3 linked regions of the Homo sapiens genome follow. The protein of the gene in region 3 interacts with the protein of the main gene of each other region in a pairwise test. Each region holds a gene or a part of one and is shown on either strand. Other genes may lie near its edges.

Region 1 (3,753 bases), on a different chromosome or scaffold from region 3:
AAATAATAGAATTGATTTTCAAAATACATTGTAGAGGCTAATATATAAAGGTTTTGAAAAGTTGAAAAATCATACCAGGGAACTTAAAAAATACTTTACTTTCTAGAATTTAAGCAAGCTCAGGAGTCTGATTTATTTTCATCTTTAGACTTGAAAGAACTTTAAAAAAATAAAACCAGACGAACGTGTTGTGGCTCTTTTATCCACTTAATTGGAATAAGGAGTACACAATGATCCTGAGGAGGATACACACCCCCAAAGTCCTTTTTCTGAACAAGGTCTGCATGTACTATTTACTATCCCTTGATCAACGGTGTCTGTTCAGGATAAGCTTCTCTCAGGCAAAGTTAATGGGAACATATTATAGACACATATAGCATATACTTGTGGTTTTTATGGGAACATACACCTGCTAACCAGTGCTATAATTAATTATAATTTATTTCCTCCATGAATATAGCTAGTGTGTATTCATCAGAACTTAATTCCTTCATGCAAATATTTCCTTTTATATAAGTTTGTATTTATTTCTCTTAGTAGCTTCTTTTTACTGTCCGTGTGTGTGTGTGTGTGTGTGTGTGTGTGTGTGTGTGTGTGTGTTTTCTTTTAGGATGGAGTTTCACTCTTGTCACCCAAGCTGGAGTACAGTGGTGGGATCTTGGCTCACTGCAACCTCTGCCTCCTGGGTTCAAGTGATTCTCCTGCCTCAGCCTCCCAAGTAGCTGGGATTACAGACGCGCACCACCAACATGGGTTTTGCAGCCTGTTCTTTGTTGCTTTTCTGGGTAAAAGTGCTAATACTCCACTCTTTCATTGCCCCAGCACTTTCCTTTTATATAAAGTTACCTGTGATTGTATGGATGGAGTCGAGTGGAGAGGTACTCATCATGTTAATCCCAAACAAGAGCACGTAGCCAATTACTATAGCAATAAGGAGGTAGACAGGTAATGCAACTGCCCAATATCTGCCAAAGAGAATATTAAAGTACATAATAGACACTTTAAAAAAGTTGTAATTCTCAAGAGTCGGTCACAAAGCCAACATGTTTTTTAAATTTAAATTTTATAAAGTAATATGTGTACATAAGAGACAAATAGTTCCACAAGGCTTACAGTGAAAAACTGCAGTCCTCTATCCCACCATCCCAACCCTGGGGTCTCACTCTCCAAAAAGAAATGCTTTGAGCACTTGAGCTGTCTTCTGGTACTTACCTCCTCATTGCTACAAAACATGCTCATATTACTATTTCCTCATTTTTTTCCATTACAGACATTTTCTCTAGGCTTCCTAATATGGAGATAAGGAATTAACCTCCTCCTATCCTCTTCTATACTTACATTGCAATTTCTCATTATAGCAGCAGGTTTTAGAAATAATTGTACCTACATAAACAATTTTGCAACTGAGGATCTTAGTACATTATTATTATATATTTTCTTGTACAACTTTTTTTTTTCTGGAATAATTACATCTTTTTGTCTGTTCACTTGGTTTCCCAGGAATCCACCAATACCAGAGCCTCAAATTCTCTGATAGGACTCTATTATGCCTCTCAGTATCATTATGTACATGGAGTGCTATTTTTCATTGAGTGTTTTTTTTTTCTTTTTGAGAAAGCATTTCCCTCTGTCACCCAGGCTGGAGTGCAACGGCATGATCACAGATCACTAGCCTCAATCTGCTGAGCTCACTTCAGCCCTGCAAGTAGCTGGGACTATAGGCACACACCACCACACCTGGCTAATTTTTAATTTTTTTGTAGAAATGGGGTCTTGAGATGTTGGCCAGATGTTTTTTTTTTTTTAAATGATTTGTTCTCTATTATTTTCTCTTTCTGGAACTTCTAATAGTTTGAATTTTTAACGATTATACTTTCTTATATTTTCATTTTTTTTTGTTCTAACTTCTAGAGATTACCTTTGTTTTATTTTCCAGTCTTTCAATTAAAATTTTAATTTTGGTTATCATGTTTACAATTTCCAAATACAGTAATTTCCTGTTTGCATAGCATTCTGTTCTTGTTTCATAGTTATAATTGTTTCTTACCTCTGAGAATTTTATGTTATTTAAATTTTTTTTTCTGTTTCCTGCATTATCTCTATTTCCTTCAAATTCCCTTTAATTTTCTGCTTTTTCATTTCATGCTAGAGGCTTTCTTTTAATGTCTGGTAACTTAGAGTAGTCCATTCATATTTAAAAATGAAGTGCTAACAAGTGAGTTGGAAGCACTATGTGTATGTGGGCAGGGATGGTCAACTGGTGAGCCTCACTCTGAGAGACTTGGCCACTTCACTGGGGTCCTCTAAATGTCAGAAATTATAGATCCTTTCTCTCGGGCTGGTCAGCTTCCTCAGGAAAGAACTATCTATCTTTTTCTGTGAGCAGTAGGGTGATATAAGCCTCGAAGCCCCAAGAGGGAAGATGGAGCAGGAGGTAAATCTTCTCATTAAGCCATGTAGATTTTCACTTACTTCCCTGTTTTCAGTAAGATGCCGCATTCCCACACTCAGACTTAGTGGCCCCCATGCTAGAGACTCTTACTTAACCTTGCCAGAGAGTAAAACTCCTGTTTTCTGCAGGGGAGGGCAGGGCAGGCCTCCCAGCTTTGAGGGCTGAGGGAGATTTGAAGGCTGAAGACTTCATATGGTCTTTAAACATGTTTTCAGTTCAACCCAGAATTAAAGAGCTACCTGGTACCCCAATGTCTGAGCTATTCTGGAGTTCTAAGGCACAAATATTCTTGCTGGCTTCCCTACTTCAGCAACGTGAAAATCACAGAAACAAAGGCAGTTACCTCTCACCTATCACAATCCACTTTCCAAAATGTGGTTGATATCTCTTTTCTGCTATACTATTGTTTCTGTGGTTTGTATCTTCAGTTTTTTTTTTTTTTCCTGTAGGGTCATTTTAACAAGATTTTTGGAGGAAATGGATGGAGATAAACATGTGTGTTCATGCTACCATCTTTAATTAGAGATGTATCAATAGCGATCTTTAAAAAGCTTTCAATTTCTATATGGCTATTCATGAATTTTAAGAGAACAAATATTTAAGATTTGGGTAGGTTTAAGAAATGATATGACTCCTCAAAACAGCATTAATTATATCCTCATTTAAGAAATATATTAAACTTACTTTTGAGGCCAATAGGTTAAACCTAAAGAGTTTAGCCAAGATTCAGGAATAAAGGCCCACACGAGGTAAAGTACTGTAGAAAAGAAAAAGAAAAAAAAGAGGAAGAGAAGTCAGTAAGACATACATCTAATCTATCAATCTATTAAGATTCAGATAAAACAGAAAAGCTCTTTTGAAGTGTCCCTGATTAACTCAGAAATGATTTTTTCCTCCTTTCAGTTCTTCTAGCTCGTTTGCACAATTCTTATAATACTTATAATTACTGTATTAGTCTTTTTTTTTAATATCTTAACTCACATTATATTTTAAGCAATTCAAGGATACAAATCATGGCTTAGCAATTGTTGTAATCCTTATTACCTAGCAGTTTGCTTTAGGTACAGTAAGTGTTCAATACTTCATCCCCACAAGGTTGAAGTAATTATAGACATTTAATTGCTCAAAGGGAAATTTACCTACCCTAGTTCTCATCCACCACATACTGAGCTTCTGCCCTATCTCCCAGAGTACAATGTTATTTCCCTCAATCCGAAATCTCGGCACTCTTTACTGTTATCCCACGATAACAACAATGGCTAAGTTCTGAGCACTCACTGTGGGTTAAGCACAGTTCCAAG
Region 2 (3,753 bases), on a different chromosome or scaffold from region 3:
AAGTCATATTCTTTGAATATTATCCTCCCCACAAAGCCAATACATCTTTTCTCCAAAACATGACACGCAAATTGGAGAAATGTAGAATTTAGAATGGACTATTACAAATAAGCAAATTCTTGATAAATTTGCCAACACAATATGTGGGAAGACATCTGTGAGATGCATTGGAAAATCTTTCGTCTTCTGAACATCTGTGAGATAGAGAAAATTTTACTTTGGTGAAGGCAGTTTATGTGCAAAAAAAAAAAAAATAGGGAGCTGGCTTAAAATAAGATTTAGAGATTATAAACTGAAAATATCTTACAGTTTAAAGCAATCACCCTGAGTTTTGTGTATACATTATAGTTATTAGAAATAAAAATCCATGAGAGATGCATGAAAGTACACAAGTTACAAAGTTGCACACTATCTGCTTTTACCTTTCCTCCCCCGCAAATTACAACATGGTTTATTCATCTGCTCCAAGCTACTTACCACATGTAACGGTGCACATTCCGAATTCTACTTCTTTGACGACATTCCTATTTGAAACTAAACATAAAGGGTAAAGATACATTATTTAATTATATGAAAACTTTTCTAAGTGAAACACCTCTTACTTGGAGATGAAAGACATGTGTATGATATGGGCAGCAGACATTTTTTAAGTTTTCCATTTAAATCAGAAAACAATGCCATTCTGAGTACTGTTATTGTCTAACTCAAAAGAGTCTCAAACCTCTAAAGAAGTCCATTAAATTAGGAAATAACCTAATAGGAAGGTTTATATTTAAACTTTGTATATACCTTAAAAATGTTTTTCATCAGTTGATATATAGTGAGTCAAAACTTGATAGAGGGTCTCAGAAAAACACACAAAGCCCTATCTGTTGTAAAAACCAATGTTTTCTATTCTCTATTTTCCAAAATTGAGTGTATAATTTCCATTCAAAAAGAAGCCCTTAACCAGTGTTCATTAAAATGATAAAAGTTATAGATTAGTTCTACTCATTTCCCAGGTTAAGATGGTAAATTTAAATATTTCTAAGAATTTATTTCAACACTTTACAAGGTTAGTATAGGAATATATCACTATTTAAGAAATTAAGTGTTGTTGGTTCTAAATCATATGTTTCTCTTTTTCTAATCATTTGAAGTTTGGCATAGAATTCCACTAGCTATAGTATATAAGCAATTCTTCAGCTCAAATTAGGACGAAAGTCTCAATAGAAAAAATATAAAGTGAGTTGTTAGAAGATGACTTTCAAAAGGCATTGTACCCTAGGACAACAAATCGCATGGAAAACACATCGAACTGGAGTCCAAAGAGCTGCTTCTATCACTAATTAGCTGTTTGCATTTAAGCAAATTTAATTAAATGCTGTCAGGCTTAGTTAACCCTTCTGCAAAATTTGGAAAGGAAAATCCTCATTTGATTGCTGTAAGAATTAAATAAGGATAATGTGTGTGAAAGCATTCTATAAATTGTTTAGTACTACAAACATACTTAAGATATAATTACCCAATTTAAACTCATTTTGTACTTATTAATTTAATGTTTTTTTCCCCTATTTTGATAACTGTAAAATCTCAAAATAGCTTCATAAACACTACTATTCTGTACTTAAGAGCACCAAATATAGTTTTTTGTTTTTGTTTTTCCGAGAGAGTCTTGCTCTGTTGCCCAGGCTGGAGTGTAGTGGCATGATCCCGGCTCACTGCAACCTCCGCCTCCCAGGCACAAGTGATTCTTCTGCTTCAGCCTCCTGAGTAGCTGGGACTACAGGCAGACGCCACCATGCCCACCTAATTTTTGTATTTTCAGTAGAGACGGGGTTTCACCATGTTGGCCAGGCTGGTCTCAAACTCCTGACCTCAAGTGATCCACCAGCCTCAGTCTCCCAAAGTGCTGGGATTACAGGAATAAGCCACCGTGCCCAGCCCCAGTATAGTATCTTGCATACTCAGTAAGCACCCAATGCACATAAGTAAATCAATATTGACTTTAAGTCATTTCTTTAACGAAAATAAATGATTTAGACTATCATGATGATCCATTTTGAATTGTGGAATGCTTAGATACCTTCTACAGACACATTATGAGACACAAATTAAAAGCCAAATCCTGAACATAGAAAACACGGCTAAGAGAATGAGTGCTGCACTACTTTTAAATATAAGCCTTTTTCAAAAACCATTAGTCAATCACTAGGCATTCTACTTTGGGAGAGTTGTTCAATTTCTTCCAACTTGTTTCCTTAAAGAAAAAAAAAATGAGACTAAATAAGAAAGTTTCTAAAGTCCCTTTCAGCTTTAATATTCTATGATGTATTGAGTGTCCATTAGTTTACTCAGTAACTTTTTTTAAAAATGGGAATCCTACAATGGTGGGTCAGTGGAATTGTATGTAACTGGACTTCAGTTTGGCATTTGTCAAAATTTCTTGTTATAAACCTATGAGTGGTAAAAAAAATATATGGTCTGAATGTCAGTAGTTTTATGTGAAACTGTTTAAACTCTAAGACCACAGTTGTTAATTAACCAGTTGGTGTCAACATGGTAGGAGTGATGTGTCACAGGGCTCTGTCCTGTTCAACATTTTTATTAATGACCTGGAAAAAGATGCTGTTATCATGCTGACTGAATCCAGAATTCTGCAAAGCTAGAAAGGATAGCAAATATATTTGATGATACATCTGGATCTAAAAGATGACAGGGTGAAATAATGGGCAAATCTAACAAAATGAAACCTTGTAGGAATAAAAAGTCCTTCACATACAGCTAAAAAGCCAACTGTCCAAAACTATTTTATGGGTGGTCTTAATTTGATAGGACAGTTAAAAACGAATGGAGAGTTCAATAGTGAATTCAATAGGAATCAAAGATGTGCAGAGGCTTCCCTAAAAATCTACTGGGTCTTAGACTACACTAACAAAAGCCTGGCATCCACAGTGATAAGGAAAATGATCTTGCTCTTTTAGTTGTGGCCAGATCCTGAAATGTTCTCTTCAGTTCAGGACAGCACATGGTAACTTTTGGTATATATCATCAGAGTGCAATTTGAGTTTTTCAGTTTCTGACAGTTGATTTGAAAGGCTGATATTTTATGACTTCTGTTCTTCCTTAGAAGTATTCCAAGACAAAAATAACATATAGTTATATTTGTATAGGATAAAACCCATTGTATAGACTACAACTTTCTATTTTGCAATTACTATGTAGGTCTATTGGCCCCTTTTTATAAATCTAAGGGTATACTTGTATAAAAGATATATTTAAAAGGTATATTACATGGTATACAAGGTATAACAAAAGTATAAGGATATAAATCTATTATCTTTTTTTTTTTTTAAGACAGAGTCTCGCTCTGTTGCCCAGGCTGGAGTGCAGTGGCGTAATCTCGGCTCACTGCAAGCTCCACCTCCTGGGTTCACGCCATTCTCCTGCCTCAGCCTCCTGAGTAGCTGGAACTACAGGCACACGCAACCACGCCCGGCTAATTTTTTGTATTTTTAGTAGAGATGGGGTTTCACCGTGTTAGCCAGGATGCTCTCGATCTCCACCTTGTGATCTGCCCACCTCGGCCTTCCGAAGCACTGGGATTACAGGCGTGAGCCACCGCCCCTGGCCATAAATCTAATATCTTAATGATTTTTCTTTATCTTGAAACATTGTGATATTTCATCATCCATAATGATGGTATTGCTCATTATTTTCAACTACATTTTTAAATGACTAAAATTTAAAAATGAAAGAATGATTGGAATTGCC
Region 3 (3,753 bases):
TTTTTCAGAAGTATCTGTGTATATTGTTACAGTGTCAGAAGAATTTTCTTCATAATTTTTTTCACTTAAATTTGCATGAAAAAGAGTTTCTAACCCTCAACTCTCAGCAGGTAGATGAAGAAAACACACACACACAAATACACACAACACACACACACACACACACACACTTCCCAGGGATAGAAAATAAAACAATTCCAGGGAATCTACCAGATTAGATCAACTACCCTCAGAAAACAGAGAACTGGCCACATTACTTTTCAAAAGAAGACTCCTATTATTAATGGCACTAAGGTTTAAAAACAGCAGTCTGTCAAAGTGAAGCCTCAAGACAGAAACTTTATAAACAGCTTTTAACCCACAAAGACACGAGCTTTCACTCACCACTGAGTAAGACTTCTTGATTTGGTTAGTAACACCCTAAGTGGCTTTCAGGAAGCCTTCACCAACTGCTGAGTAGACAGTCAAGAGCACAAAAAGGCTTCCCTGGAGATTACCTCCTCCTAGTTACTCGAGAAACTCAGATTGCCCTGACACTGCCAGACAAATAACTGTATCCCTTTGACATCCAAAGATTACCTGTCAAAAGGAAACTCCAAACACACACGTTCACACGCACGCGCATGTATACACACACACACAAACACACACACACCCCACCACAGTCTGGTTGGCATGAGCCCTACCTGCATGGGTTACCATTTCCATGATAACAGAGCACTCACAGGTGTACCGCTGAGAAACACCAGGCAGACCGTCATTTAAAGAGCTCCAAGGAGTCTGAGGGTGGGAAACTGCCGGCTTTCAGCAGACCACCCTGGCAATGAACAGAGCGCCAAGGAACCCTGGTATCTTCCGTAGAATATGCCACGGTCCCATAATCTTAGTGGAACTTCACCTTGACTGTACAGTATTGAATCGCAATACCTCTTATGGGAAGCTCTGAGCTCAGACATTCCAAAAGAAAAAAGTACCACCTTCGCCAACGAAAGTTTTTTTCTTGTCTTTAAAAAGGGATAGAGTGAGAGAGCTTAACGCCCCCTCCTCAACATTCCCTCGTCCCCTGCAAAGTTTTCCAACTTCAAAATACGCGGTCACCAAAGAGCGGGGTTCATTTGCTTATTCAAATAACTTTAATACTATGGGACATGTAAGACAGCAAAGGGGACAGGTGCAGATGGGCGATGCAGTAGAAAATATGCCTGTCCCCCCCTCCCTGCCCCTCACTCTCAAGCCCCGTTCCCAGTTTCCTCTCCACAAACAGCAGGATATCACGTCCGAGCCCAGCTTGCCCCTAGCCACTCGCAGGGACAGGGGAAATGTAAACTGTTGCTACAGCCTCCTGACACTCCACCGATAAATCAGAGGAAGCTGCAAAACTTCTTGGCTTGCTCAGCTATCCTCCACTGGCACTGAACGCCTATGCACAGATTTCGCAGTCAGCGCTACGGGAAAGGAAACCCTCAGTCAACCTGTTTGCAAAGCCTGCAGAACAACTCCCGGCCTTTCGATTTTGGGCGCCGAGGCTCTCCGCGCAGGACGGGAAACCCCCGGTTTCCTTCATCAGTATCCCTCAAACCAAGCTGGAGGTGAAGGGAACAGAGCTCCTGCTGCCCGGGTCCCAAGGTTCGGTCCCGTTGCATGAGGTCGGTGCTCAGGTCGCCGCGTGGGGCGTCCCCGCCCGCCTAGAGGGTCTCCGCACACTGCGCCCCGGGCAGCCCACGCTTCCCGCAGCCCCAAGCCAGAGGCGTCCGAGAAGATCCGCTTCCAAGTTCCCGCGTCTGGCTGGGAGAAGGGGCGACGATGGCTGTCCGGCGAGGAAAGAGCAAAGTCTGCGCCGGCAGCGCGCCCCCTTCCCCGGCGCTGCCACCCCGCGCCCCAGTCGGCCGGCCAGGGGGCCCGGCATCCCCGACTCGGGGCTCCGCGTGCTTGCACTCACCCGTCTCGCCAGAGCCGCCGCCGTAACCTCTGGGAGCCGCTGAGCCCCGAGCTTCCCGAGCGCAAGAAAGATGGTGGTGTGTGTCGGAAGACCACCCATTCCAGCGTCTGGCAACCCGGCGGCGACTCTGGCTCCTCAGCACTGAAGGAGGAGGAGGAGGAAGAGAAGGAGGAGGAGGAAGAGAAGGAGGAGGAGGAGGAGGAGGAAGGAACGGCGCAGTCAGACGCCATCTGCTGTACACCTCTGCGCAGCCATTGGCTGCCTGGTGCGTCCGAGAGCCGCGGGGCGCGGGGCCGCGGGGAGCCACCTTGCGCCTCGCCTACCCCGGCAGCTGTTCCCCACCGCCCCCTCTTTCTCCCCCCTCTCCTCCGCCTCCTACCGCCTCTGCCGCGCACCCGCACGACCCTCGGCTCAGCCTGCTCCCCAAGGCGAGCGACCGCGGGCGCGCTGGCCTGGACCTCAGTTCCTCTGCTCCCCGCAACTGTTTGCCGCAACTTTGAAGCTTCGGGGTGCCGGTGCGGGCTGGGTAAGGGGACTCCCCAGCTGAGCTCAGCCCGGAGTACCCAAGCCACTGAGCCCAGGAGAGGGTCGAGCGCTTTGCGCCTCGGAGGTCCATGAAGTGATGGGGGAAGAGAGCAAGAAAGAGTGGGGGTGCCCTAGGCCCCTGTTGATAACGCGCCCCAACACGCACACATGCGCGACACTCCGACACACAGTAAAACACACACACCGAGCCATCCCGCAAGGTCCGGATGGTCTGGCGTTCCTCTGCAGTCCCCGGGCACGAGAGGGCTTCGGTGTTACTAGGAGAAAAGACAAAGAAAATCCTATCTGGGGAGTACCCCTAGCAGCATACGTGGGGGAGAGAGAAAGGGAAACATTGTGGTGACTCCGGGAAACGCCGGGAGCTGGGTGCATACCTGCCTGGACATCCCCCCTGTTGCGGGGCTCCCAGCGACTGTCAGCCCACGCCCACCAGAGCCTGGGAAAACCCCTAGCTCTGGGGCCTCTGTTTAAAGGATTTGCAGTCCCGGGGCGCGGGGACCGGAGTTGCGGGAAGGAGCGCCTTAGGCTCCTGGGTAGCTCATGCCGGAAGCAGCAAAGGAGGTGGAGAGTCCGAGTCAGCCCAGGTGAGGCAGGAGTGCAGACAGCGGAGAGCACGTGGGCAGTCGAGGAGCAGAGTCACAGCTCAGAAAGTCGTTTGCTTACTCTCTGACACTTGTTCCAAACCCTTCTGGTTTTTGACACCTTTGATCTAGGGAACTTCTTAAGCTTGTTCAGAGAGATGAAGTTGCTTCAAAAGGGAGAAGGGGCGGGGGGAAGCATGAGGACTACCTATTGCCAATTACAGGATATTTTGCCTGTCAAATCTCTTTAAATGTGTGAGCCCAGCGACAGCAGGGATTGTATCTTTTCTATTTTATCCAATGCCTGGCACACCATGGGTGCTTAAAATGAAGCAAAATAATAATGATAAAATTAAAGCTTGATGTCATAGAGCAAATTAGATTCAAGAGATAAATAGAGAAGCTAGGATCTGTCACAGATAAAAAGAAATCAAAAGAATGTAAGTGCCATTGTAAAGAAAGATGTGAATATATTGGTAAGGGGCTTCAACTCAGCTTGCTGTGGGATGATGGGTTCTGAAAGCAGGGAAGCCTTACTTAATATTTTAAACAGCAATCGCTATTCTCCCACTACAGTCACATTCTGGGTTATGCTTTTTTTTTTTCCTGACATCACTGTCTTAAAAATAAATCAGCTGCCAACCAGATCCCAGAATATTTTCTTAAATCCAAGACCATGATTTATTA

The links.
Region 1: the proteins of THSD7B (region 3) and PIGP interact in binary tests that used the Homo sapiens proteins (3 or more experiments, as listed by UniProt).
Region 2: the proteins of THSD7B (region 3) and SPACA1 interact in binary tests that used the Homo sapiens proteins (3 or more experiments, as listed by UniProt).

The regions. Positions count from the first base shown.
Region 1 is NC_000021.9:37,066,416-37,070,168, forward strand, and holds part of PIGP (phosphatidylinositol N-acetylglucosaminyltransferase subunit P), read right to left. Parts: intron 3,210-3,753; coding exon 3,137-3,209; intron 966-3,136; coding exon 847-965; intron 1-846. UniProt on the Homo sapiens protein: Part of the glycosylphosphatidylinositol-N-acetylglucosaminyltransferase (GPI-GnT) complex that catalyzes the transfer of N-acetylglucosamine from UDP-N-acetylglucosamine to phosphatidylinositol and participates in the first step of GPI biosynthesis.
Region 2 is NC_000006.12:88,050,727-88,054,479, reverse strand, and holds part of SPACA1 (sperm acrosome membrane-associated protein 1 precursor), read right to left. Parts: intron 535-3,753; coding exon 478-534; intron 1-477. UniProt on the Homo sapiens protein: Plays a role in acrosome formation and establishment of normal sperm morphology during spermatogenesis. Important for male fertility.
Region 3 is NC_000002.12:136,763,874-136,767,626, reverse strand, and holds the start of THSD7B (thrombospondin type-1 domain-containing protein 7B precursor), read right to left. Parts: upstream 2,083-3,753; 5' UTR 1,940-2,082; intron 1-1,939.